Linked DNA regions of Homo sapiens. The protein of the gene in region 4 interacts with the protein of the main gene of each other region in a pairwise test. Each region holds a gene or a part of one and is shown on either strand. Other genes may lie near its edges. The genes, in order: ACP1, ATOSB, PSMA1 and SFMBT1.

The links.
Region 1: the proteins of SFMBT1 (region 4) and ACP1 interact in a two-hybrid assay, tested with the Homo sapiens proteins (one large-scale study listed by BioGRID and IntAct).
Region 2: the proteins of SFMBT1 (region 4) and ATOSB interact in binary tests that used the Homo sapiens proteins (3 or more experiments, as listed by UniProt).
Region 3: the proteins of SFMBT1 (region 4) and PSMA1 interact in a two-hybrid assay, tested with the Homo sapiens proteins (one large-scale study listed by BioGRID and IntAct).

What each region holds. Positions count from the first base shown.
Region 1 is NC_000002.12:274,947-279,514, reverse strand, and holds the end of ACP1 (low molecular weight phosphotyrosine protein phosphatase), read right to left. Parts: intron 4,376-4,568; coding exon 4,314-4,375; intron 2,536-4,313; coding exon 2,430-2,535; intron 2,289-2,429; coding exon 2,211-2,288; 3' UTR 1,232-2,210; downstream 1-1,231. UniProt on the Homo sapiens protein: Acts on tyrosine phosphorylated proteins, low-MW aryl phosphates and natural and synthetic acyl phosphates with differences in substrate specificity between isoform 1 and isoform 2.
Region 2 is NC_000009.12:35,103,822-35,111,596, forward strand, and holds the end of ATOSB (atos homolog protein B), read right to left. Parts: exon of another isoform or gene 7,746-7,775; intron 7,632-7,745; exon of another isoform or gene 7,448-7,631; intron 7,395-7,447; exon of another isoform or gene 5,839-7,394; intron 5,810-5,838; exon of another isoform or gene 5,384-5,809; intron 4,917-5,383; 5' UTR 4,773-4,916; intron 4,529-4,772; 5' UTR 4,454-4,528; coding exon 3,560-4,453; intron 3,071-3,559; coding exon 3,012-3,070; intron 2,823-3,011; coding exon 2,717-2,822; intron 2,590-2,716; coding exon 2,431-2,589; intron 2,189-2,430; coding exon 2,120-2,188; intron 2,037-2,119; coding exon 1,861-2,036; intron 1,554-1,860; coding exon 1,400-1,553; 3' UTR 296-1,399; downstream 1-295. UniProt on the Homo sapiens protein: Transcription regulator that may syncronize transcriptional and translational programs.
Region 3 is NC_000011.10:14,506,112-14,513,886, forward strand, and holds part of PSMA1 (proteasome subunit alpha type-1), read right to left. Parts: coding exon 7,706-7,775; intron 7,589-7,705; coding exon 7,459-7,588; intron 4,841-7,458; coding exon 4,761-4,840; intron 1,656-4,760; coding exon 1,545-1,655; intron 1-1,544. UniProt on the Homo sapiens protein: Component of the 20S core proteasome complex involved in the proteolytic degradation of most intracellular proteins. This complex plays numerous essential roles within the cell by associating with different regulatory particles.
Region 4 is NC_000003.12:52,904,657-52,912,431, forward strand, and holds part of SFMBT1 (scm-like with four MBT domains protein 1), read right to left. Parts: intron 6,523-7,775; coding exon 6,347-6,522; intron 3,078-6,346; coding exon 2,899-3,077; intron 2,659-2,898; coding exon 2,413-2,658; intron 1,586-2,412; coding exon 1,457-1,585; intron 621-1,456; coding exon 480-620; 3' UTR 1-479. UniProt on the Homo sapiens protein: Histone-binding protein, which is part of various corepressor complexes. Mediates the recruitment of corepressor complexes to target genes, followed by chromatin compaction and repression of transcription.

The DNA.
Region 1 (4,568 bases), on a different chromosome or scaffold from region 4:
TTGGGAATTCGTGACTTCTGATTTACTGAGAGATCATGACACTGGCAAAAGGTCATAGAATATGAAAGCCATAAACAAATGAAAACTTGAAGCCTAAGAATTTCTCTAAGGGATAATTAGCATTTTTTTTAAAGTAAAGGCTACTATATATTGGTGACATAATTTCCTAAGATAGTCCCTGATTTGCTGGGAAATATTCCAAATAAGGTTGTATCCATTATTTCCCAAGCGATTTTGTAATCATGAAAATGCTTAACTAGGAGAAACCTTAAGACTTCTAAGCAGTCTCAGAATTTTAGATGTAGATGTATTTTAAACAAATCTAATTGGATCCAATTTAAAAAGCTGAATTCGGCAAAGCAATGAGTTTCTCCATTCATATGAGCCCTTGTCGGCAGATGGTATCGTCTGGGTGTAGCCATAAGGACAGAATAGTCAAGAGTCCTAGGATTTGTTTGAGGATCTGTATTTATAGAGATAAACATTAAAGAAAAACTATAGGATTTTATTTCCAAACATAAAGGAATAGAAGAGTAAGAAATTTTGACTTTGAGATTAAAAGCAATTACTGAATGAAGAGAACAGGGTGTAACTTTTGAAGTGCTCTTATTTAATCCTGTTTTCTAATTACAGCTCATTACTTGACCTTTCCTTCCCCATTTTTTATGTTTTAAGGATTTCATGTTCAAATATCCAATCTATTAATATTTAATCCCCTCAGTTTTCTGTATGTCTGAGTAATTCCAACAAGAGCAAGACTCACTGGGTTTGCAAACTTTCTTCCTATGAAGACAGCCTGGCACTTCCACATGGTACAGTGGGGAAACTACTCACTTTCATCTGGCAACAGCTTATCCTCCAGATACTAGGGAGTCAAGGATCAAACGTGTCTCCTCCCCATGGCACTGCCTGGGACCCTCATGATACTGAGGTCAGGAGTGCAGATGTCCTGGCCAGGCAGCTGTGCATCACTGCACAGGAGGGCACAGCGTAGAGGCAACATGTCCAGAGGATGGTACTGGGCAAGGACAGTTCCAGCTGTAGAACCTCAAACTTCCTTCAGAAACTAGACATGATGACATGGGGCAGCAATGTGCTTATTTTCATCATTTTACTTCCTTATCCTGAAGATAAAATATGCACACCTAACATCACAGATCATGTAAAAAGGACAATACAATGTTTTCAAATGCTTCCTTACCTGTCAATAAAAAAACAGGCAGACACCAGATTTATATCTCTAGTTGTATTTTTATAACTCCCCAGTTTATTTTGAAATATTCATGATTTTGACATTATCTCAAAATACACAGAAATTACCTTACATCTGCCTATACATTTATTAAATGCTGATGAAGAATACTTATTCAATATTTAAGCATGCCAAATAATAACACTTTTCCCAACTTTTAAAATTATTTTAAAAAATAAGCCAATTTATATTGGACATTTGGGTTACATGTGCATATAAAAACAGTCATATTCCTCAACTGACCATAGACTAGCATACAAGTGTCCTTCTTTCTGGATGTAATTAAGTTTCAGAGGCAAAGTGGTTCAGATGGGAGCCAATGGGCTGACCTCCTCATGAAGTAAACTCGACAAAAATCATGAAGTATTGAAGGTGCCAACGACTGATTCCATAAATGTTTCTCTCTTCCCTATCTTTTCAATATACAAGTGTGCACTATGGGTGTGTAGAAATTAAAACACTTCTAATCTAGACTGTGAGCTCCTACGGAGGGGACTACTGTCAATCCACAAAAGGCCCTAGGGAAGAGAGAGGTAGCACTGGGGAGCAGAGGGCACCTGCCCTCCAGGCCATCCACACAAACCTACTGAAGAGGTAGACTCGATTATCTAAGTCTCAACAGGCTTAGATGTTGACCTGGGCCTTCAAGTGAGGTTTTCCTTCATTGTTTTATGTTGCTTGTTCTACTATTTTTGTAACTGGGGCAAAGTGAGATGTTCAACTAGTCTAAGAATGCTTAAAATACCCCATAAGCTGTCTGAATCAAAGATTTTTATTGATTCTCCTGCCAAACACAACTGATTTCCATCTACAATTACTTTTTAAGGTAAGAAACAGTAAGTCAACTGAACAAAGAGCTGGGCTTTGGGCCCTGGAACGTGATTACACACCGACTGAGAAATGCAGGACCTCAGGGTGGGGTCTAGTCAGGCTGGCCGCAGCAGGGCACGAACCTGCCTCAGTGGGCCTTCTCCAAGAACGCTCTGCAGCACCTGACACACTGCTGGTACACCGTCTCAAAGTCAGAGTCATTCCCCTAAATGGACAGGAAAAAGAAGAAAATGGCAAAACCTGCATAACAAAAACATCCTTAACACAATCTCATCTGTTATTTAATATGGCAGGATACAAATGTGTTGGGTCTTCATATTAGCCCTAAAACGTGAACTGTACTTACATAATAGGGATCTTCAATAATAAGTTGTTTTTGTGGATCATAGCTCCCAAGTAGTTCAATTTTAGCTTTGCAGGTTTTAACTTGATTACTTTTTCTATTCAAATCTCTGTAAAATTGAAATATGAACTTAGTTTTCTGATCTATGGTTTCAAGTTAAACAGGGACATCTGCTAGGGTGTTCTGAAACATCCATATCAAAATCAAGACAGAATGACCTAATTTGAAATGAAACGGAACACTCAGCAGGCCCGTGTGGCCCCTTCTGCAGCTGTATGCCACTGCCCTCTCTCTAGGCAAGACAGTTTGCGACAGCAGCTTATTCTCACTGATTCTGTTACACAAAATATACAATAATTATATTTTCTCCCACAAAATACATTTTAAGACAATCAAGTTTCAGAGATAAAGGTCATAGAAAGGAACCCAAAACACCATCTGAACCAGTCCCAAAACAGAGGGCTACCAATTCCATCCTCAGGTGTCTTGACACAGCACTTCCCACAGCACGACCCACTCCTTAATTACTCTTCCATCTTTTATTCCTTAAGCCTCTGCCCAAGCTGAAAACTCAGCTTCACTCTAGACTTCCACCCTTAGCTTTCACATTGCTACAAAAGAAAAAGGCAAACTTAACTAAGCGCCTCCATTTATTTAACAAATTTCGACTGAGCACCTGCGACAGATGAGTTGATGAGTCAGGTACGTGCTTTATGTGGGAACGGAACAGCCAAGAGCTCCCATGCACGAAGTTTTACAGCTCAGGATTAGGTGCAGGAATGAGAACTGCAGGCAGGCCTAAGTCTAATGCACAATCTGGCCTAATGACAGGGCAGCAGAATACCTCTATCAAGAAATGAATTTAAGCTGACCCACGAGGGGCAAATAGGAGCCGAATGACCCAAGAAGCAAGGAGGAGCTTCCAGGCAGAGGAACAGCACGTGCAAATGTGAGGCTGCAGGAACTCCACTTGCCCCACACGCAAAGAAACACGGTGCTCAGTGCCAGTCAAAGCAAATGGGGTCTCCTAAAAAGGTGTTTTTACGATGCCTATGGGCTATGGTGTCAGCAAAAACAATGAGAACAGAATAAGGACTGAAAAATAAAAATTAAAAAATACATGCATTTTAATGAAGGTCCTAATTAATAAAAAATAATTGAAACTGGTGCATCCCTATCTGTTCATTTGTACAAAAGTAATTAAAAGCACAAATAGTTTATCTTCATCAAAAACATGAGATATTTATGAATAAGTAGTGATGCAAGTCAGAATCCTGGAGTGACATTAAATTATGATCCGTTCCCGATGACGCCTTGAACATGGGACTGGGGCAGGTCAGGAGGGTGGTGACTGAGGCAGGGGTGCATACAGCAGGGCCCTTCCTCACTGAGCCTAGGCTTAAATCCCATGACATCCACCACATGCTAGCTGTGTGAACTCGGGGACATAACCTAACATTACCGTTTCTCACTTCCTTCTTTTACAAGATGGGATAATAATAGGAACCTATGGTTGCAGAGCTTTGACCTGAGAATCAATAAAACACTGCCCTGCCCAGGAATCATTACAGCAAAAATATCAAAATCGTTCTCATGCAGAACAATATGCTTGATACAAAACTATAACAGCCAAGCTAGTTTTCCAATTAAATCATGCTATTAACAACTAGACTTTCCCTTTTCTAAGGTGTATTTCCTTGTAAATACCTAAGAGACAATTCTAGATTACTAAGTTTTTTGCTGTTCTAAATAAAATAATTCTACATATGGTGACCATCACTGACTATTAAAACCTTTAAAATAGAAAAAGTAAATCTGGACAACAAATTACTTGGCCCACTGCTGAACTGAGAGTTGAACAGAAATATTCTTCAAAAACAGGATTACCTCAGATTGCTTTCATCCATACATAGTATATAATCAAATGTGGCAAAATCTTCTTTGGTAATCTAAAATTGAATAAGAAGTCAAAACACAGTGTTTATACCATTCAAGCCTAGAGGATGCAAAGCAATACTAAAAGAAAAAAAAAACTGCTGTATTTGAGCCTGTTACTCACTAATAAACAATTAAATAATTTTTAGGGTACTTTTAAGTTAAAATAGAGTTAACCTATTTCTCAAAATTGTACTGCAAAGAAAT
Region 2 (7,775 bases), on a different chromosome or scaffold from region 4:
CTCCATTTTACATATGAGGGCACTGAAGTTCTGAGGGGCTAAAGTCATTAATAGAACCAGTATTAGAATCCTGATCTACAATTCAGAGTTCAGCTTCTACGGCTGAACTTTACCCACCAACCCCTCCGAAAGGAGAAAAACCAGGCCCCAGGAATCAGCAGGGACTAGCCTAAGACCTCATGGGCCCAGGCCTGTTGCCTCTCTGGTAGAAAGGGCTGAGTCCCAGCTCCAGGAAGGCCCTCCATCCCCCTTCACACCCTCTCCCCAACAACAACAACAACAACAAAAGTAGAGCTTAGTTCAAGTTTCCAAACAAGAATTTATTCTTTCTTTTTTAATCTTTTTTTCTAAAAAAAAGTACCAGGTACAATTTTTTCCTGTTTTTGATTTGCTTTGTTTTTTCAAGTTTCAGCAAATGCTTGTTCCCCTCAGCCCAGCCCCAGGAGTTAGGACTGAGGCTGGGTCAGAGTCTGGAGTGGGGAATGGGGTAGTTTGGAACCACATGACTGAGTTTGAGGGGTGCCCCTCACCCCAGCTGAGGTAGGTGGGTCAGAGTCTGGCCAGGTGAGAGGAGGCACCCCAGTGCTTGGCCCTGACTCTGCCCCCTGGACACCTTCTTCAGTCAGGACCCCAAAACAAGGAGACACAGGTAGGAGGAGAGGGACAACTGGAGTCTGGAGCCCTAGGTGAGGGGTGGTTAACCCCTGTGTGTGTGCATACATGCACACTCACACACACATACCACACAAAGACAAGCTTGTGCACACACACATACGCATAACTTGGCTTTCAGAGATAGGTCAGAGGGTAGGGGAAGTGAAGGGACTGGGGAAGGACAGGGGAAGCTGAGTCTTTGGCTACTGACTCAGTCCCTCTGGAATAGCCCCTCTTCCCTCAGCTGAGGGAAAGCAGTTCTCCTCCTGCCCCCACCGCATAAGCCTCTTCAACTCCTGAGGTTGGAGCAATATCTGAGAGTGGGAAGCGGGGAGGAGTGATGCCAATTATCAGGTGTGGGAGGTTACCAAGGCAATCCAATTTGAATAAATTATAAATTAAAAATAAATAAAATAACAAGTGGCCCCTGCCCAGGACAGGGAGGCAACGCTGGCATAACTTGCCTGGGAACTTGAGAAAATCTCAGGGTAGCTCCAGTTCCTCCCTACTACCTAAGCTGGCCTGGGAAACCCAAGGGAGGGGACAGGCACATGGAGTACCCGAAGTAGGGCAGGGTGTAGTAAGAATCAGAAGCTTTAAACACCCAAATAATCCATTTGGGCGTGAGCATGGTGAGGGCTTTAATTCAAGCCTGAAGGGTCTCTTGCTGTCTCTCCATATATGTTCTCTAAGATGGAGCAGGATGGGCAGGTCATTAGCCCGCATGGGTTCAGAGTGCTGGCAATCAGGGCAAAGGTGAATAACGTGGATTATGAGGGGCCTCGGTCACAGCCTGCAGTTCGTAGGGGAGCCCTGTGTCCAGCTCCAGGCTCCGGCGGGAAAAAAGCAGGCGGATATCTCCATGCAGGCTTAAGCGGCCTGAGCGGGAGCTCCGGAACCTGGAGGAGGACAATGTGATCAACGTAAGAATCCAGGCTGGGTTCAGTGGCTCATGCCTGTAATTCCAGTGCTTTGGGAGACCCAGGTGGGAGGACTGCTTGAGCCCAGGAGTTGGAGACCAGCCTAAGCAACATAGCGAGACCCCATCTCTAAAAATAAATGAATACATACATATATATGTACATACATACATAAAAATTTAAAAATAAACTAAGCAAGAATCCGGACAGTATCGAAGCAAGGAGAGATCCTCTTCAGGGAGGGGATACCTGGGCCTCCCCAGCCATCCCTGGGCCCTCTCCTCACCTGAGGTGCAGCAAGTAGCAGAGGAGGCGGTGGGTGGGGTTAGCATTTCCCTCCTCACCCACAGGCACCAAAAAGAGGCGATGGCGCAGGAAGGTCATGTGGGCAGCAGGCATGTCCGAGAAGTCAAAGGTCACAAGGAACATCTTTACCACAGTCTGGTTGGGGTTAAATAAGGTCTAGGGACAGGACAGTCAAGGTTGGTAGGGCCTGAGGGCTGCTTTCCTCTCTCCCCACTCCCACTCCCTCAGGGCAAACTCACCACTTGGACGGTGCCCACCTTGGGCACGCTGTAACCCTTCCTCCCCAAGGGGTTCAGATCCACGATGCCCTGGAAGGCCAGGGAGCCATCAGTCAAGGTGGGGACTAGGAAAACCCTGGGCCCTAAACACATGTCCCTCTCCACAAGCTCTCACCCTGAACCTGCCCCTGCCCTACAGTAGAGTTCTCCTCACCTGGCCCTGACTCACTTCTAGGTGAGGAATAAGTAAGAAATACCTCTTGCCCCCTGGCCCCGCCCCCAAATCCTCATCCTCTTGATGAGCTGACTTTGGGGTTGGAGTCAAGGCATACCAGGAAGGGAGCCGGGGCATTTTGCTCAGAAACATCAAAGAATGTGACAGTGACAGGCAGCGTGACGTGCTGGGGGCAGTATGACCCACTAGCTCCAATTTCTGCTGTGAAGCCCTCAATGTGGCCAGATGGTGCAAAACGTCCTCGCAGCAATGATTCCTGGGATTAGGGTAGGGAAAACACATGAAGAGAGAGATGCCAATTCTTTTCCTTATCCATCCAAGCCACATTCCACCATCCCACCTCTCCCAGGACCCCGGCAATCACAAACCCCAACGGGAGCTACCTCAAAGTTGCCCAGCAGGGTACGGCTGACAGCAGGGGTAGGAACAGGGGAGGCACTGGGGGGGCTCAGCAGGCCTGGCCCCTTCCGGAGGCTTCGAAGGGGGCTCCTGGTAGAGGAAGGGAAACACAGGGGGTTGGCTTGAGGTATTCTGGGATTCCTGCTTATGCCCTTGGACTCCACCCTCTGCCACTATGTAGGGCTTCTGCCCTGGGGTCCCCTACTCGGATGCTGGAAAGAGTACAGACTTCTGCCCCCATTCTCAGGGACAGGGTAGAGGAAAAAGCTGGTCACTTACAGCTTCAGGCGACGGGCTCCTTTCAGCCTCCGCCCCATGGGACCGCAGTCTGTTGGGTCCTACGGAGAGAAATGATTGGGAAAAGACACAGGGTGAAGGCCATGTATGTTTTGGGGCAGAAGCTCATCACAAACTCTCAAAGGAACACCCTGCCCCCCAGGCCTCCACCTTTACCCACACAAATATCCACTTAAGAGTACATGAAGGACAGGCGCAGTGGCTTGAGCGCCTGTAATCACAACACTTTAGAAGGCCAAGGTGGGTCGATGATTTGAGCTCAGGAGTTCGAGACCAGCTTGGGCAACATGGCGAAACCCCATTTCTACCAAAAATACCAAAAATTAGCTGGGTGCAATGTCATGTGCCTGTGGTCCCAGATACTTGGGAGGCTGAGGTTGGAGGATCCCTTGAGCCTGGGAGGAGGAGGTTGCAGTCAGCTGAGATTGTGCCACTGCACTCCAGCAGTGATGGAGTGAGATCCCATCTCAAAAAAAAAAAAAAAAAAAAAAAAGTAAAAAAAGAGTAAATGAGGTCCTTTATTGGCTTACCAAAACAGGCTCTTTGGGCCCAGGCAGCAGGTGGCTCCAGAAGGGTGTGGCTTTGGCATCAGAACTGTTGGCAGCAGTAGGGTGGCCCAGGGATCCCCGGCGCCTCCGAGGGGCTGGCCCCTCTTCCTCAGAGCTGACATCTGGGGCTTCTCCAGCAGGAAGCAGCCTTCGCTTGGTGGGGCAGGGGCCTGGGGGTCCAGGGCCAGGGGGTGTGTGCTCGGGACTGTGCCCATTGGCAGTGCCAGGGGACTCCCTAGGCCAGAGGCTACCCCCATTGCCCACCCCAGCCACTGGGCTCTTACCCCCTATTTGTGCAAGACTGTGCAAATCAGTGTCAAGTGTGTGCAGCTGGCCTGGAGGGGCTGGCCCTGGGGACTCCCCCAGGGACCCCTGTCCCCCTGGATCTGGGGAGGCCCAGTCTCTGGTGTGCAAAGTATTGCAGGAAGCATTTGATGGGGGGCAGGGGGGACTCCAGGCCCCCGAAGTCCAAGATGAGGTGACACTACTTCTCTGTTCCACAACACAGAGGCCACGGTGGGAGAAATGCTGGCTGGCCACACCTAGTCCCAGCCCCGGTCCCTCTGGGCCTAAGAGCCCCACAGTAGATGGTTCTTCAGGGGGTAGTCCCTCTCTGGCCCCCAGCCCAGGGCCTCTCTTCAGCTCCCGGGGACCCTCAGTGGATGGGGCTTGTCGTTTCAGGGCCCTATGAGGCTCAGAGGTACCAGCCGGAGGGGAAAAGATGGATACCTGGTAGACCCCGGGGGATGTCGCCCCCCCTGCTGGGCTGTAGCCCATGAGCAGGCCACCCTGGAGGGCCCCCTGCCTGACTGGAGGCTGTGAAGGGCCAGCCTCCGGCTCTGAGGATGGAGACGGCTCCGCCTGCACGTGGCGCATGAAGCCCCCCTTGGGTCAGGGGGGCCCCCCAACACGGCCTTTATGCTGGGCCTGGGCTGGGGGGCCTGGGGACATCTGTGTAAGAGAAGAGAAGAAAAGGTGGTCAGGGGAATCAATGAGTCTTCTTCCTTCCAGCTGAGTTTCAGACCCTCTCCTTGCCTAAAGGGGTGACTTTGATGGGTTCCCAAGGATGAATGTGTACAAATCCCTGGATGGACTAATGGAATATAGAGACCACTCTCAGAACTCCTGAGAGGGTGACAGGTTTAGCTCAGGCTTCTTACTGGACACACTTCCCCCTCTTCTCCCTGGTACTTACCCCGATGAAGAGGCCTCAAGCCTAGCTGTGCGTCCCCTCTTCCCAACTGATGCCTCGTGCCCCTAGCTTGCAGTCTGATCCATGCCTGCTGCACTGGCAAGGTGACTGCCACCATTCCGTGCAGCTCCTGAGCTCAGCAGGACCCTGAGGAGAGAAGAACAGACGTAAGCCAGGATCACTGGAGCCAGCGGTAAGGCCTGTCACCAATTATAGGCTAATAGTACACTCCAGGACATCCTTCTCCCATGTGAGAGGCTCTTCAGGAACAGAAAGGGTAGGCTTGGGGTCCAGGGCACAGATGGCAGAGTTGGGCTACCTAAGGAGTCAAAGAGGCAGGTCTTGGCTCAGTATAATAAGGATGTGACAAGTGAGTTGAGGTAGAATAACTACTTGTCAGGGCCACCATTTGAGGACTCCTGCCCTACATGGAGGAAGGGATGAGAGACCCCCAAGATCCAAGAGACCGTGTCAGCTGAGAGGCGGCCAGGGGAAGAATTCAGCTTTCTTACTCAAAGCCACCAAATTGCACAACTCCTTCTTATATGTCTATCTCCAAAGGGACAAGTGCCATCCTAGGGCACTAAGGGCAGAGGTCTCCCACACAGTTATACCCCATCAGCGGTCCTCAGAGGTACAAATTTCAAGTCAGCTCAGAGCTGGCCTTTCAGCCCTGAACTCCAAATTGCCTCCAGCAGCCTGTCTCTTTAACAAGAGGCAACAAATCCGACCAAAAACAAGAAGGGGAAGGGGAAGGGGTCACTGCCAGAAGGCACTTTCCAGGGCCCTCCCGCAAGGCCCTGCAAACTAGAGATAAGGCCGCAGCAGTCAGTCAGCTGGAAGCAACTAGGGAGTACCTCTCCACGCCCCTCCCCCAGTGCTCACACACCCAACACCAAAACCCCAAACCACGGGTGCATAAGATGGTCTTCACTAACTATTCCAGCCCATACTAGGGTGAGGGGAATGTCAAGTTGAAAGCCAGCTGCCCCCAGGGTCAGCCTTCTCTTTTGCTGTCTGACATTCACGGTGCTCTTTCCCCTTCAAGAAGTGCCCTTTGAATGCCTACCCAAGACTTTTCCTCCTTGGATAGGTCAAATGCCATCTCCTCCAGAAAGTCTGCTCTGTCCACCCCAGACCATAAGCATCTCTCCCTTCTCTGAGACCTCACCTATGGCAGTGTTACTACTTCCTGTAAGCTCACTAACAGTTCTGCTCACTCCTGTGGGTAAGGCATCTTCTAGACCGACCATAGAGTTCCTGAGGACAGATCTGTGTCCCACCCCTCCATCCAACCCCAAGTACAGGGGTAAGCACACAGCAGGGCTCAAAAAAAGTAGAATGCAAGTCCCAGACATCTGAGCAGCAGTCCTGAGAGTGGAGAGAAAAATTTCCCAGATGAGAGAAGCAGAGAGATTAATTGTACAAGGGAAAATCAGGAACAGAGGTGGGGGTGGGGAGCAGGCAGAAAGGAGAGATTTGTACCCAGGGACTGAAAAGCTCTCCTACACCAAGTTCCCATCATTGTACCCCACTATCCCATTTCACCAAATTCTCCTAAGAATTGGGATCCCTAAGAAAATCCTGGTTCCCTGTGGTGGGCGGGATGGCTGGAAAGGGCAGAACACCAATCGCAACCTGCACTATCCTACCTGCAACCAACCTTGTCAGAAGGTACAACCTGCACTAATTTCTACCCTTCTTTCCTCCACCCAAGCCATACAGATTCAGGAGGGGCCTTTTCCCTAGCACCACCACTTCCAGGTCATCCCAGTTGCCCTCTTGACCCCTTGCCCTGGGGAAGCCAGGGGATGACATGATGCCCTACTTGACCCCAGCATACCTGGCATCTGCTTATTAACCCCAGAGCCCTCTCAGTTCCCACCCTGTCAACAAGACGCTCTATATTCACTCCCCTGCCACCCAGCCAGTCTGGCTCTAGACCATGGCTTCAAGCTGACTCATGGGGCAGGACTGCAGGGGAGGGGGGCAGGGCAGAGTAGGCCAAGCCTCACTCTTCGTTCAGGGGGTGGGCAGCAGCTGGCATCAAACAGCTGTGCCAGGCTGTGGCTGGCAAGGACTACAGCTCCCAACATGCTGAGGGAGCAAGGCCAGCAAAAACAACAAGTCCCAGAATACGTCTGTACCTTTAGACACTTTTGAGGCCTGGGAGGTGGGTGAGGTGGGTATTGGTATAGGTATCAGCTTCAAGGCTCATTCTCCCCTTCCCTTCAGTATTAAAGATTTCCATTTCTACCATGATCAAGGAGAGTGACAGGATGAATTCCTATCCATGTGCTTTCCACCCTCATCCTATGCAAAGAGAACTGCTGCCAGCTGCTCTCTATTTTGTCCCTACATACATCCACACAAGCTAGGGGGGCTGTTCCCACGGACCACCACTGTGGGTAGGAAGGTCGACTTCTTCTCTCTTACCAACCCCTCGGCCCCCAGCCTAGAGCCCTCTATCTTCAGAGGGGAGAGAGCAGACCTTAGCAGACTCTCTAAACTAAGCCAGGCAGACTCACCTGACTCCTGGACTCCTTCTTCTGGACGATCCCTTACCCCCTGCCCAGCCTCCCAGGTCCCTTCTCACTCCTCTCCTCCCCACAGCCTGGGACAGGCCCCATACTATACTGGAGCTTCGGAGATTTGCTCTTTCCCTCTAGCACACTCACCCCGCTCCCAAATTGGCTCCGCGGAGGTGGCCGCTGCTCCGGGCCCTTCCGTCCCGTCCCGTCCCGGTCCCTCCCCTTGGTTCCCCGGTCCTCCCTGCCACGGGCCCCCAACCCAGACAAAGGGTGGCTCAGGCTGAGCCCTGCTCTGCTAGGCTCTTCGCTGTTCAGCTTCGTGTGCAACACTAGCGGGCCCTGGCGCCCGCAGCCCCCCAGCCGCTGCCGCGCCCCTCCCTGCGACGGTCCCTCCCCGGGGCCGCCCCGGCTCCGCGCCGCCGACTCCACTGCCCCTCTGACTCACAGGCCATTTCCTACCAGCTGATGGGGCCGC
Region 3 (7,775 bases), on a different chromosome or scaffold from region 4:
GAGTCAAAAGTTATATGTGGATTTTCAACCATGCTGGGGTTTGGCACCACTAAACCCCACACTGTTCGAGGATAACTGTATATATAATTTCACATTTCTGAAAACCTAAATATCATTGAACAATTCCACCATTTTATCGTACTTTGCATTGCTCAGGAATAAAAGCTTTCCTTGTATTATCACTACTATGTTTAAAATACAATCAGCACTTTTTAGACATTCTTTTCCCCTTTGCCAAACTAGTTTGTGGTATTCCACAGCATTCTTCCCAACAGTGCTAGTTTTTACCAAAAACAGTTTAAATATTGCAAATCTTGATCCCCCAAATAGTACCAACAATATCCTTTCCAAGTTAAAAAAACTCATGCTGTAGAAATTTCCATACTAGATTCTTTTTTACTTTCAATTACACTGCTATCAAATAAGCATCTATAAATAGCAAATGTATATTCTAAACATCTAGCAAAAAGACCCATATTTCACCTGAGATTCACTTCTTGATGCTTTTCTCTTTATGAAGAGCCATCTTAGTGTCCAAAGCTGGCCCCCAATGAGCATTTCTCCCAGTCTCTGCTCAAACAGAATCTGGGCCAGGCCAGTGACTCACTTTAACCAACAGAATGTGTACAAGTGATGTTGTGCCAGTCCTGCATCTCAGCCTTAAGAATGCCTGGCGGCTTTCACTTCTGACTTTTGCAAGCCCTGAGTTGCCAATATGCTAGAGAGACCCTGCTGAAGAAGCGGCCCTGAAACTACGTGGACAGAGGCTCAGTCATCCTAGCAGAGGTCTCTGCCTTCTAGATGCTCCTCTAAGACACCTAAAAGGTGTGAGTAAAGAAGACATGTGACTGAAGTTATCTTGGGTGTTCCAGTTGCACCCCACAAATGACTGCAATGTTTGAGAGATCCCAGGTGAGACCAGCAAAGAACCATGTAGGTGAGCCCCAGTCAGCCGCAAAATTGTGAGAAGTAGTGTTTGTTGTTCTAGCCCCTAAGTTTTGGGGTAGCTTATTACCTAGCAATAGATAACCAAATAATCAACACTTCTCCCTTTTTGTGTTTGTTTTTTTTTTTTGAGACAGAGTCTCTCTCTGTCGCCCAGGCTGGAGGGCAGTGGTAGGATCTCAGCTCACTGCAACCTCCGCCTCCCGGGTTCAAGCGATTCTCCTGCCTCACCTCCTGAGTAGCTGGGACTACAGGTGCATGCCATGACGCCCAGCTAATTTTTGTATTTTTAGTAGAGACGGGGTTTCACCATGTTGGCCAGGATGGTCTCCATCTGTTGACCTCGTGATTCACCCGCCTCGGCCTCCCAAAGTGCTGGGATTACAGGCATGAGCCACCGCACCCGGCCCCCTTTTTGTGTTTATGGAGATCACTGCCCTTTCAATATTTAACTTTACTCAGTTCTTAATTTTCCTGTTGCCATTTGAATTATGGGCCCATTTCAATATTTAAGACAAAATGGAAAATTTACAGACACAGTTGTGGTAAGAACAGCAGCTTACAATAGAACTAAAGCCTCTTGTGTTATGATTATATACCTGTGCCTTTCTCTGTGGTCTTTCTTCAAGACCTTCCAGGAATGGAGACACATCATCATCATCATAGATTGTAAACTCCAAGTCTTTACCAACAATTCCAATGGAAACATTCTGAAGGGTAAAATATGGTAAAAGTAAAATAAGAGAATTTGGATGAAAAAATACATACGATAAAATATTGGGTGAAAAAAGCAGAATAAGAATTTATATAGCATTTGAATAAAACCTTAAAAACCACTTATGTGTAGGAGAAAAAAGAAGGAAACTAGTGGACCCTTGTCATTTGCAGATTTAATATTAATACTAACTTTTGATTATCATGAGTAACTCCAAAGATCTATGTTATCTAGAAACATTTTTTTAAAAAGATAATGCAGGCTATAAAGTCTTCACATTGATATTAAACAATAATTATCCAATCACCATAACAAAATGGCTTTATAAAACTGACTAATCTCACTTTATTAATGATCATTAACTTCAAGTAGGCCTTAGTGGTTCCTGGATCCCACTATACCCATTTCTACATCATTCATGCTCCCCTTCTTTTAGACACTTCTAACATTCTCCAAGCTCTTTGAAGCTGAAAACCTTGTTCCTATATTACTGCGAAAACAGAAGCAATTAGAAGAGAACTTTCACAAGTTCCCACTGTATCCACTCTTTCCTGTACCTATGTCCCTAGATTCTCTCCTTTCCCATTAAAACTTCCTAAGGCCAACCCTTCCACCTATGTACTATTAAAGGACATTGTTCTAACAATTTTCTCATTATTTTTCCTCATAAATGCTTCCCTAAATTTACTTGGATTACTCTCACAATCATGCAGCAAATGTGATGTAATTTCTTCCATCTTAAAAAACAAAACAATTTATTTCTCTCCTCTTCCAGTCACCACTCCATCTCAAAAAAAAAAAAAAAACCCAGATTGTAGGGGTAAATAGATAGTGGGGCTATGGGTAGAAATAGTTTTAAGGCTATTCAGGTAATTCATGTGAGAGATGATAGCGATTGGAGCAGAGTGACAGAGTGACCGTCAACAGAAATATCCTCCAAAAAGCTATCTGCAATTCCTCGTCTCCCATTCTCTCCTGATTCCACTATCAGGTTTTTGCCTTATTATTCCATTAAGCCTGTTTTGTCAGGTCCTCAGTGACAACTTCATTGCCCCTCCTCCTTGAAAGTTTATTCGTTTGCCTCCAAAGATGCCTCATTTTCCAAGTTTTCCTCCTACTTCTTTGACCACCTCTCTCAGTCTTTTTTGCCAACACCTAACTCATCTCCCAGTTGCTAAAGGTTAGTGTTCTTGGTCCAGTCCTCACAATGCTTGTCTAACTATTCAATTCCTTTAGGAATCTCTTCCAGTCCAGACTCTAAATGCCATTTCTATATAAAGACTTCAAAAATTTGAAATGTAGGTTGGACCACTCTCCATGGAACTCCACGTGTTGCTTATAACTGCTTACTCTGTACCGTCAATTAGACAAAAAGGCATTTCAAATTTTACATGTCCGCAACTGACTGCCTGACCTTCCTCCCCAACGCCTACTCTAAAACCTGTTCCTCCCACTATCTTCTTCACCTCAGTAAATCATAAATCTTTCATTCCAATTAATTAGGCCCAAAACCTTGGAGACATTCCCCCCTCACACCCTATAACAAATCTATTAGCAAACTTTTTTGGCTGTAATTTCAAAAGATATCCAAAATTGAACCACTACTCTTCATCTTTAACTCTGTCACTCTGCTGCAATCACTATCATCTCTCACATAATTACCTGAATAGCCTTAAAACTATTTCTACCCATAGCCCCACTATCTATCTACCCCTACAATCTGTTTTTTTTTTTTTTGAGATGGAGTTTTGCTTTGTCACCCAGGCTGGAGTGCATGCACCGCCACGCCCGGCTGATTTTTGTATTTTTAATAGAGACAGGGTTTCATCGTGTTGGCCAGGCTGGTCTCGAACTCCTGATCTCAAGTGATCCACTCACCTCAGCCTCCCAAAGTGTTGGGATTACAGGCGTGAGCCACTGCGGCTGGCCCACAAACCGGTTGTTTTTTTTTTTTTTTTTTTGAGACGGAGTCTCGCTCTGTCGCCCAGGCTGGACAGGCTGGAGTGCAGTGGCGCAATCTCAGCTCACTGCAAGCTCCACCTCCCAGGTTCACGCCATTCTCCTGCCTCAGCCTCCCGAGTAGCTGGGACTACAGGCGCCTGCCACCAAGCCCGGCTAATTTTTTGTATTTTTAGTAGAGATGGGGTTTCACCGTGTTAGCCAGGATAGTCTTGATCTCCTGACCTCGTGATCCACCTGCCTTGGTCTCCCAAAGTGCTGGGATTACAGGCGTGAGCCACCGCGCCCAGCCTCAATCTGTCGTTAAAATGCCAAACAGAGTGACTGTTTTAAAACCTAAACCAAATCATGGTATTCCTCTGCTCAAACTCTTAACAGCCCACCCAGAGTAAAATGCAGAGTAACCACAATGGCTTATGGGACCTCCATTACCTCTCTGATTTCTTCCCTTTTCCTCTTCCTCTCGATGATTGACCTCAACACTACTGGCCTCCTTGCCTTAAATACTAGGGCCTTTGCATTTGTATTTCCTAGAATAATTTTGCTCTAGATCTGCATAGCTCATACTCACTTACCTCCTTTATATCTTTTCCTCAAATTTCATTTTCTTGGTGAGAATATCCTCAACCACCTATTTTAAATTACACCTACCTACATCCAATTGGTCATTCTTTCTCCTTTTAACGCTTTTTTATTTTTTACATAGCATTTATCTTCTTCTAATATACTATATAATGTACTTATGTATATACTGTCTATCTTTCCCTACTAGGATGTACGTTCCATGAAGAAAAAGTTATTTGTTGTGTTTACTGTATTTTCAATGCTTAGAAAGTGCCTGCACATGGTAGGTGCTCAATATATATATATTTTTGTTAACTAAATAATACCAAGATATGCCAATCTGCTGAAAATAATGAAGGACATTTTGCATGAAATTTACTGGTTTTACTGCTTTGTACCAAAAAGAAATGTTTAAAAAATAAAATTGGATTACTTAGCAAATAGCTTAAAGGAAAAGAATCTGCCAAGACAATCATATCCCAAATTACAGAATGTTGCATATATACTCCATTACATTTATGCAATAAAGGTTTAAACTGTAACGTTAATATCTACAATTGGAAAAGACAATACTTACCTTTGTAGTCAGGTCCTGTTCTGCAGGAAGCGTCTCTCTTAAGGCACGCAGACCATGTTTAACTAGTTCATTTAAATTACCTATATGTAATAAATTAACAATTATTTCTTAATTTCATTGTTATGCTAGGCTTCTGTTATTTATCAAATCTACAGTCTCAAATTGTGGTTTTTAGTTACACACTAAATTTATCACAGTAAAAACAGCCAAGTTTAATGCTAGTCATATAATCTTTTAATAGCATTCTATGACATTGCTGATTCTTATTTTATTTAATGAGAGGACTCATGATTTTTGTTACGATTTTGATCTTCTCTTTTGCTAGGTCAAATCAAAATCCCGACTATAAATTATACAACTCCAAGTTTTGTAGAATGTGTTCTGTAGAATCCTAGTCCTTATATTTGCTCATTGTAAAAAGGAATCTCCAACTTATTCTATGTGGCCAGTATTACCGATAACAAGAATAAAAACATCACAAGAAAATAAAACTACAGACCCAATATAGATGCAAAAACAAAACAAAACAAAACAAAACCCTCAACAAAAACTACAAACGGAACCTGGCAACACATTAAAAAAATTATATACCATATACAAGTGAGATTTATCCCAAGAATAAGTTAGTTTAACAACTGAAAGTCAGTGTAATTTTCAGTTACACTGAAGGAAGGGAGAAAACCTGCATAACCACCCCAAGAGATGCATAAAAAGCACGTGATAAAACCTAAAATGTTTGCATAATAAAAACACAAAACAAACTAGTAATTGAAAGGAACCTCTTCAGTCTGATAGAGGGCATCTACAAAAAGCTGACAGGTAACATCAATCTTAGCAGTGAATGACTAAAACCTTTTCCCTTAAGTTTAGGAACAAAAAAAAGAAGGTTTGTTCATGCAACTTATATTCATCATTGTACCAGAGGTTCCAGCCACGGCAGTTAGAAAGGAGAAAGTAAAACTATCTCTATTCCCAGACAACATGATCTTAGGAATCTATAAAAAAATGACTAGAACTAATAAACAAGTTCAGCAAGATTGCAGGATATAAGATTGATATATAAAAATCAACTGTATTTCTATATAGTTGCAATGAATAATATGCAATGAAATTAAGAAAACAATTCTGTTCACAACAGCACCAAAAATAATAAAATACTTTAAGACAAATATGATTTGTACACTGAAAACTACAAAACATCAGTGAAAGAATTAAATACCTGGTTGGGTGTGGTGGCTCACGCCTGTAATCCCAGCACTTTGGGAGGCCCAGTTGGGCGGATCGCCTGAGGTCGGGAGTTTGAGACCAGCCTGACCAACATGGAGAAACCCCGTCTCTACTAAAAATACAAAATTAGCCAGGCGTGGTGGCGCATGCCTGCAATCCCAGCTACTCAGGAGGCTGAGGCAGGAGAATTGCTTGAACCTGGGAGGCAGAGGTTGCAATAAGCCGAGATCGCGCCATTGCACTCCAGCCTGGGCAAAAACAGTGAAACCCCGTCTCAGGAAAAAAAAAAAAAGAATTAAATACCTAAATAAATGAAGATATTCCATGTTCATGGATCAGATGCTTTGTATCATCAAAGTAGCAGTACTCCCCAAAATTATCTATAGATTTATTGCAATCTTTAGGAATTTCCTATCCAGGTTGAAATGTGCTAGGCAGAGGGTGCTGATATGAGCAGTTCTGAACCAAACTTTGGACACTGAGTTTCTAATGAGCTTCTCTGGGCAGAAACATCACATACATATTGCTGCAAGTGTACTCTGTGACTCCTTATGGGAAGGAAAGAGCATAAGGAAGCCTGCACATAGATTCCTCTGGACTGTATTTTTCCTTAATGATCCACCTATGTACTGTTATTTTATTGTTAAAAGTCTTACCTGGGAGTACAACTATATGCTGTGCGCTTTAAGTCCTAGCATATCTCCAAATTTAGGGGTAACCTTGGGGACCCCAAACCATTTACCATAATTTACAATGTTAAACTTTAAGCCAGCATTTACCAAGCTTATTTGTCCAAGGAATCCTCTTTTCCCAAAGTTAAACCTATTGTCATCCCACAAGTTTGCTTTGAGTAATGTCAATTAAACTATTTTTCTCTGCATTCACTAAACCCCAAATATTTCCTCCAAAGAATGCTTTGTCACCAGAAAACAGATAAGATGACAAAGAGAAATGTAAAACCCGATACCCTCCTTCCAATGCAAAGCAAAGCACTTGAAAACCTGTCCTGTCATAACATCTTACCTCTTTTACCTTCTTCTCCCTCAACTACACTGCCTTTTTATTTCTTGTTTATGGACTACTAATGCAGAAATGTCTGTGTGGCTTAAAATAACAAAAGACTCACAGAAAACTAAAAGTGAACAGAGCTTACAACTGGCAGGTAGTACAGTGGTTCTCCACTCTCCACTCCACAGGGCACACTTCTGACCAAATGAATCAAGAATTTTCAAGGTTGGGAACACATTTATATTTTGAAAAAGTTCTACTCGTGCTTGAAACTACTGTGGTAACCAGAAGTTAAGATTAGTATATGTGACAGAAACAATAAACTCTTCATGGGCATAATTTTTTTTAAAAAAATTCTTTCTATAAGACTTACAGTTTTATGCATTTAGGATACTATGTTTATTTACTATATAGACTGGAAAAGGCAAAAAAAAAAAAAAAAAAAAGCAAGGCTGTCACTTACACTCCATAAATTCAGACATATGTCTCTCCAAGTAAGTACGAGCTGATTGGGAACGGGCTCCAATGGACATGGCTCTGCAGTCAAAATAGTTAGCAGATGGACAGGTTTGGAAAATGTGAGGGCCCATATCCTACAAATAGAAATAAATACACCACATAATTATTTACTTTGGTTGAACTAAAAATTATAAAAATTTCTAGTTAATTAAAAAAAATCATTAACATATAACAATATTCAATGAACTTACATCATAACCAGCAATAAGGAGACCAACACCATATGGTCTCCGGCCATATCGTTGTGTTGGTATCTGGGTC
Region 4 (7,775 bases):
AATGACAATGAAGCACTGATATGCCTTAGGAACAGTCCCAAATCAGTGCTGACTTAAAGCTAAGTCCTCTCTTTCCAAGAAAAAGAAAGCAGAGAACAAAGTTCAATCTACAATGGGAGGGAACAGAATGAAAACAACCAAAAGGGTGCTTTCCAGCAGCCTAGGTTATTCTTTGTTTTCAGGCCACACCACTGGAAATGCTTTTCTTCTTATATAAGTCTTTTCCTCACAACCTTTATTTTTTAAAAACTGCCATCTGCTGAACAAGAGATGTCCACATTTCCACCAGCAGGTGATCCACTTCTGTGCACAGTTTTTGCTTCCTCACTGTGAGTCCTCCTTCCCCGAAAGTGCAAAGAGAGCAAGCTGATACCTGCAGGCCCCAGAGCCCCAGGACTATTCCAGCTCCACTTATAAAGCAGGGTGAAGGATTTGCTGCATTTGTGCTTCAAAGATCCAGCTCACTTTGGTTGTCCTTCTCAGTTGGCAAACTGCTCATAAAAAGCAAACTTGATCCTCTCTATGTGATGGCAAAGTTTGATGGCAGGGCCCAATTTTAAGTCCATGCATTCTTGAACAGTGGGAAGGGTAAGGAGCAACAGGGCCTGCCCATCAATTTCCTGTTAAAGCATAAAAGACAAATTATCTGTGATGTGCACATGAAAGGCAGCTTGATCATGACAGCCTCTCCTCACTTTAGCTCTGTCAAAACTGGAATCCCTATGCTTTCCTTTCCTTACTTTTTCGTCTTAGGTATCACACACTTCCTTTTAAGTGACTCCATAGTCTTCCACACTAATGAAGCTTCAGAATTAATAAAGTTTTACTGAGGACAATAAAGTTTTACCAAGGATAAGAATCCATTCCAGAGTCTCTGTCCCATAGAAATTTAGTAAACTGACTAGCCCTGTAACTGGCAACTAATTGTGCCATCTTTTTAGAGGGTTCCTTCTAAATCTGAAACAAAGGATTAACTATCAACTTCAATGTTTTCCTACTCTGTAACATTCATAAAAACCCGATAAGCTCTTGAATCTCCCTAATTTTCTAAACAAAACTTATTTCAATGTTTAAGGCCACTGACTGTGTTTCAGCAAGCTTGCCTTAAAACTTATCACCACTCTAGAGCCTAATGTGACAGATGCTATTTTTTTTTAAACAAGCAAATCATTATTTTTGAAAAGATGTGGACAATTAAGCATGGTATGCTTGATATTGGAGGGATGGAATCAAATTCTTAGGAAAAACTGGAATGCAATGATAATCTCCTTCAACTATGAAGCAAGTCTGATAAATAACTTTTTATCATCTTTGACTCCTAAAAATGGAATTAAGACAATTCTTGTCTTTTGGATCAAAACATTTTTCCTAAAACTTGTAAATAAATTGTTGACTATTACATCCATAATTTATTGCTAAAGAGACATTACTAAAAATTATAGGTATCTGTGATTACCTGGTCTAGGAATATTCTTGCTAATGGAGCACAGTCAGTGGATCTGATGAACCGCACAACGTCTGCCACACTCCACTTCAAGGGGTTACTGTCCAGGTGAAGCCTTTCAGCAACTTCGATCCTTATTTCCTTCATTCCCCACAACACAATCAAACCAAATGGTGTTACGGCTATTTTATTCTAAAAAAGTCTCTCTACCTAAATTCATAATCTTTCAAGACATGATTTAAAGTGGTCTTAGGACATGATTTCTCCCAGCAAAGATGGCAAAGACCCACGTGCATCAGGTACTCAGGAAATGTCTGTCTTTTATAATACGAAGTATCAATGGGAAAGAATTTATCTCAAAGTTCCAGCACAGATAATTTAGACAATTTAACTAAGAAAAACAGGGTGCTGAAGAGAAGGGGATGATAATTCCATTGAGAGAAGGCTTAACTAAACTACCAGGAGGAATCTTTACTGCTTCTGTTCATGGAATATTCTTAAAAAGCAATCTAGTTTTTGAACACTAAATTGTTCTTTAGTGTTATACATATGTTATAAAATGTTCATATGTATATAGTAAATAATATATTAAGCCAAATGGCTTAACCAGAATCAAAAGGATAACTTTTTTCTACAAAACCATATATATTATGAAACATATTAAAAAGGCAGTTTTCCCAAAAATAAATGACAAGCTACAAATAAGCTAGCAATGGGGCTTTTTTTGTTGTTGTTGTTAAAACAAGCAGCTACTCTGAGAGAGACTTTCCCCCTATAAGTAGATGATCTCAACTAATCCTTGAAACACATGTAAATCACTGCATTTGGGGTCACTTTACAAGAGACCCTGGAAATTCTACATAAGTCTGTATTGAAAGAAGTAGAATGTCAATATCACTAATAATCATATTCCAGATGGAAATTCCAGAGAGAAAGAAAGAAAAAAGAAACTATTTTTTAAATGGTACCTTTGGTGAAGGAGGTTTATTTTCATCGTCAGAAAATGAAAAGGTGCGAAGCTCCCTTTTTCTCCTTTGTCTATCTGGAGGCAGCGATGTGGATATCTCACTTTGGGTGGGAGAAGAGGAGCATGACTTTTTTTCTGACATTTCTGATTCTTCCTGTAGCTCATCCTGCTGCTCGGATGTACTGCCTTCACTTAGGGAATCATCATCCCCTTCATCTGGGTCATCCTCATCTTCACCCCCACTTCCCTGCAGGAAAAGGAGAGAAGTCTCATTGAAATTCAGGACATCAATCCCAGGTTTCATATGATTAAAAAAAAATAATAAAGAAAGAAAAGAAATTCAGGACAAACCAGTTCTTGGGCCACAAAACCATCTTCTATTGGCCAGAGATCTGAGTTAGAAAGACCTGCAGGTATTCTGTGTCCATACTATAAAGCAGTGGTCACTTGGCTTCAAGACATTACAGGCACATCACAGATCTCATACCTGGGGAGAGCCCGCTGGGGTATTATCAACAGATGCAGAGGAGCGTTTCTTCTTATGAACAAAAACATTTTTCCGCCTCTTTCTCCTCTTACTGGCTTTTTTCAGGGCACAAGCTAAGTTACTATGCCCACCAGGTGGCCTCCCAATTCTTTTATTTTTCTTCTTTCCGTAATAGTGTGCTAAATGTGGATGACAAAGAAAAATGAAGTAGCTTCATTATTTTTGTGTACCTCAAAACCACAAGAGATTTTATTAGCATAGCAAAAAACAGGTACATTGTATTTGATTGGGGTTTAAATTCCATAGAGTGGAATAAACAGATCTGAAGTGCACGGTTTGACTAGTACTGAATGATCCCTCCATATCAAAGTATATAGAACATCTTCAACCCAGAAAGCTCCCATGGTCCCTTCCCAGTCAGTACCCCTTACTAGAAGCAGCCACTATTCTAAACACTATCACTATAGATTAGCTTTGCCTCTATGGAACCACACAGTAAGCACTTTTTTGTGTGTGACTTTTTTTTTTTTTTTTTTTTGAGATGGAGTCTTGCTCTGTCGCCAGGCTGGAGTGGAGTGGCACGATCTCGGCTCACTGCAACCTCTGCCTCCCAGGTTCAAGCAATTCATCTGCCTCAGCCTCCTGAGTAGCTGGGATTACAGGCACACACCACCATGCCCGGCTAATTTTTATACTTTTAGTAGAGACGGGGTTTCACCATGTTGGCCAGGATGGTTTCAATCTCTTGACCTCATGATCTGCCCGCCTTGGCCTCCCAAAGTGCTGGGATTACAGGCATGAGCCACCACGTCCAGCAGCCATGTGTGACTTCTTCTACTAGGCATAATGTTTTTGAGTCGTGTGTTTTATTATATGTTTCTTTTCTATTTGGATATCTGGTTGTACCAGTGCTATTTGTTAAAAAGAATTTCCTTTCTCCCTTAAATTTCTTCATCTCTCTTGTTGAAAATCATTTAACCATGTTAAGTTTGGCTCTATTTCTGGACCCTGTGGTCTGTCCCATTGTTCTATTTTTTTGAGACAGAGTCTGTCACCCAGGCTGGAGTGCAGTGGCGTGATCTTGGCTCACTGCAACCTCCACCGCCTGGGTTCATGTGATTCTCCTGCCTCAGCCTCCTGAGTAGCTGGGACTACAGGCGTCTGCCACCACACGCCCAGCTAATTTGTGTATTTTCACTAGAGACGGGGTTTCACCATGTTGGTCAGGCTGGTCTTGAACTCCTGACCTCAGGTGATCTGCCTGCCTCGGCCTCCCAAAGTGCTGGGACTACAGGTGTGAGCCACCGCACCCGGCTTGACTATTCTTTAATGCCACACTCTTGATTATTATAACTTTATGGTTAAAAAAAGAGAGAGACTAAGTCTTCCAACTTTATTCTTTTTTCCAAATTGTTTCAGCTATTCTAGATCCTCTGCATTTTCATATAAATTTTAGAATATACATTCCAGAAATGAAACATACATATTCTAGCTGAGTTATGTATTAAAGTAATATCAAAATATAATACAATTTTGTGAAAAAAATGGAAATTTTCTAAAGGATACGAATCCATTTGACATCATTCAAATTACTAACTGGGAAAAATTATAACTGTCCTTCTAAATTCTAGGCTAATTTCAACTATATTATTGTGAAAGATAAATTCAGACAAAAGGCACAATAAAATCCACATATCTTCCCCTCACATATCTTCCTTCAGAGTAGTGTGCTTATATATGCATTTACATGAATAGTATTTTTCACTCAGCTCCTAATAATTGCAGTTTCCTAAACTAAGTGCTGAGTCTGATACAAGAAGCTAAGATAATTCCTACTCTTAAGGAGTTTACAATCCAATAAATATAAATAGAAACTAGAAGGTTAGACTTATAAGATTTTGTAATTTAAATACTGATTAGAAAGCTCGTCATACTAAGTATGGACCTTGGATCAATAGCATCAGTGGCATCTGGGAACTTGTTGGAAATGCAGATAGATACTCAGGACCCAGATACCCACAGACCTGATACATCAGAAGCTCCATTTTAACAAGATCCTTCAGTGATCTGCATGCACTATAGTTTAAGAGGCACAGATCCCTAAAAGAAATCTTTCCATTTTAACAAGGTAAAAATCCTCCTCTGTAGTGATTCTCCCAAGTGACATAGGGCTTGTAGGATTTAAGGAAAGGTAGGATCAGAATTTTGTCTTTGGGTGGCAATGCCTTGACAAGGCTCCAAATTGTAAATTTCATCCTATGTGACCCCTGCCCCAGTTTCTCAAAGAAGATAAGCAAGGACAGCGAATAGGTGCTATGACAGTTCAAGGTGAGGTTGCAACTACCTCCTCTCCTATTTCCACCTCCCCAACTAGTGTGGCTTCATTGCTGCTCTTCAGAGACACTAAGCAAGCTTCTGCCTCAAGCCTGTGCCCTTGATGCCCCCTCCCCAGAACACTCCCACCCAGCTCTCTGCACAGCTGGCTCCTGTTTCCTTCAAGGTGTTACCTGTCAGAAAGACTTCCCTGACCCCTTGCATAAACAGCACCCCACCTCCCAGCCTTCCTCACTGTCCTATTTTGCTTGCCCACCTTGCTTCACTGTTCCCCACAGTATTTCTCTAAATACTGACCCCTCTCTAAATTTCTTCCCTTGTTTGTTATCTGTCTCCCACATTAAAGGTAAACTCACTGAGGATAGGAATTTGTTTTCTTTATTGTTGTATCCCAGTGCTAGAGCAGCATAAGCACACAATGAGCACAAAATATATACTTGCAGATTGTATGAATGAATTACATATCCTATTAGATACAATAACTAATTTATATACATGCTATATATAAAAGTTGGCACACTAAAGCCCATGAGTCAAGTCTGGCCCATGACCTGTTTTGGTATAGCCCCCAAGCCAAAAATTACCCTTACATTTTTTAAAGGGTTCTTTTTTTTTGGAGACACAGAGTCTCGTTTTGTCACCCAGGCTGGAGTGCAGTGGCGCAATCTCAGCTCACTGCAACCTTCATCTCCCGCTTTCAAGTGATTCTCCTGCCTCAGCCTCCCAAGCAGCTGGGATTACGGGCAGGTGCCACCACACCCAGCTAGTTTTTCTATTTTTAGTAGAGACGGGGTTTCACCATGTTGGCCAGACTGGTCTCGAACTCCTGACCTCAAGTGATCCGCCTGCCTCGGCCTCCCAAAGTGCTGGGATTACAGGCATGAGCCACCACACCCGGCCAAAAGGGTTCTTAAAAAATGAAAACACAACACATAGAAAAAGAATATGTGACAGAAAGCATATGACCCACAACATGAAATATTTATCATCTGGCCCTTTACAGAAGAAGTTCGTGTGCCTCTGCTATATATGAATGTCTGTAAAGTAAAAAACTTTCCAAGATGTAAGGTATGGTCAGCTGCTATGGTTAACACATTGGAAAAACATGACTCACTGTATTTGGTCTTTGTAAGTACAGAACAGTTCTCAGAACACTTATCCAGAACCATCCGTGGACCGAAGAGGTTAGGACAGCATTCCAGTTTGATACAGGTTTGCCGGCAGAATTCAGTCACCCGATCTGCTGTTTTCACTATCTCAACAGTAGCCCGATAACTCTTTCCTTTATATCTGCCATTGGAAGACATCAGATGCCAAATATATTGGGCTAATGATTACCCAGAGAAAAATCAAACATATTAATACACCTAAAAAATATTTTTGCTTCTTGGAATATTCTATGTCCTTTATAGTTCAAGGGCCCTGAAAACAACAAGGAAGTTCTGCATATTGAACTTAAATCAAATTAAATCTGGTAAGCTATGACAACTAAAAGCTGAGTTATTTAAATTAGCAAAATTAAGCTCCTGCTTTCTGTTCCTAAGTTAAGGTTTTCAAATAGTAATTTCACTAACTGCTCTAAAAAGAAAAGTGACTTTTCACTAAGTCTTTCTTTACCCTTGGCAGTGATCCTCAGACTGTTATCCAAGGACCAGTATGACCTGCCAATTGCCTGCCATCCATCCATGACAAGATCAGAAAGCAAGAGTACCTGTTTATAACCTTTCACAGTAATTTGAAAAAGTAATTTTATGTCTCTTACATCTAATAACAAAAATTGTTCTTGCATTTTTATGTCTTAAATTTCTTATTTCCTTTTTGTTTTTGAGATAGAGTCTCGCTCTGTCACCCAGGCTGGATGAAGTGCAGTGGCATGATCTCAGCTCACTGCAACCTCCGCCTCCCAGGTCAAGAGATTCTCCTGCCTCAGCCTCCCAAGTAGCTGGGATTACAGGCACACACCACGACACCTGGCTAATTTTTGTATTTTGAGTAGAGACAGGGTTTCACTATGTTGGCCAGGCTGGTCTTGAACTCCTGACCTCAGGTGATCCGCCCACCTCAGCCTCCCAGAGTGCTAGGATTAGGGGCGTGAGCCACGGTGCCCGGTCTTAAATTTCGTATTTCTTATAATTCATTCTATCATATTTTATAAATGTATTGATCCATGAAAGAATGGAAATCTAAAAAAGAAAAACAAGCCTGGGCCTTCACCACAAATAGCTGAAAAAGCCCTGCCTAAGGAAACATAAGGCTTCTGATATTATCCACAGAACTGATTCTGTGAATTTTTTTTGTTGTTTTTTGTTTGAGACAGAATCTCCCTCTGTCACCCAGGCTACAATGTAGTGGCACGATCTCAGCTCACTGCAACCTCCACCTCCTGGGTTCAAGCAATCCTCCTGCCTCAGCCTCCCAAGTAGCTGGGATTACAGGCGTGTGCACCGTGTCTGGCTAATTTTTGTATTTTTAGTAGAGACAGGGTTTCATCATGTTGACCAGGCTGGTCTTGAACTCCTGACCTTGTGATCCGCCCGCCTCGG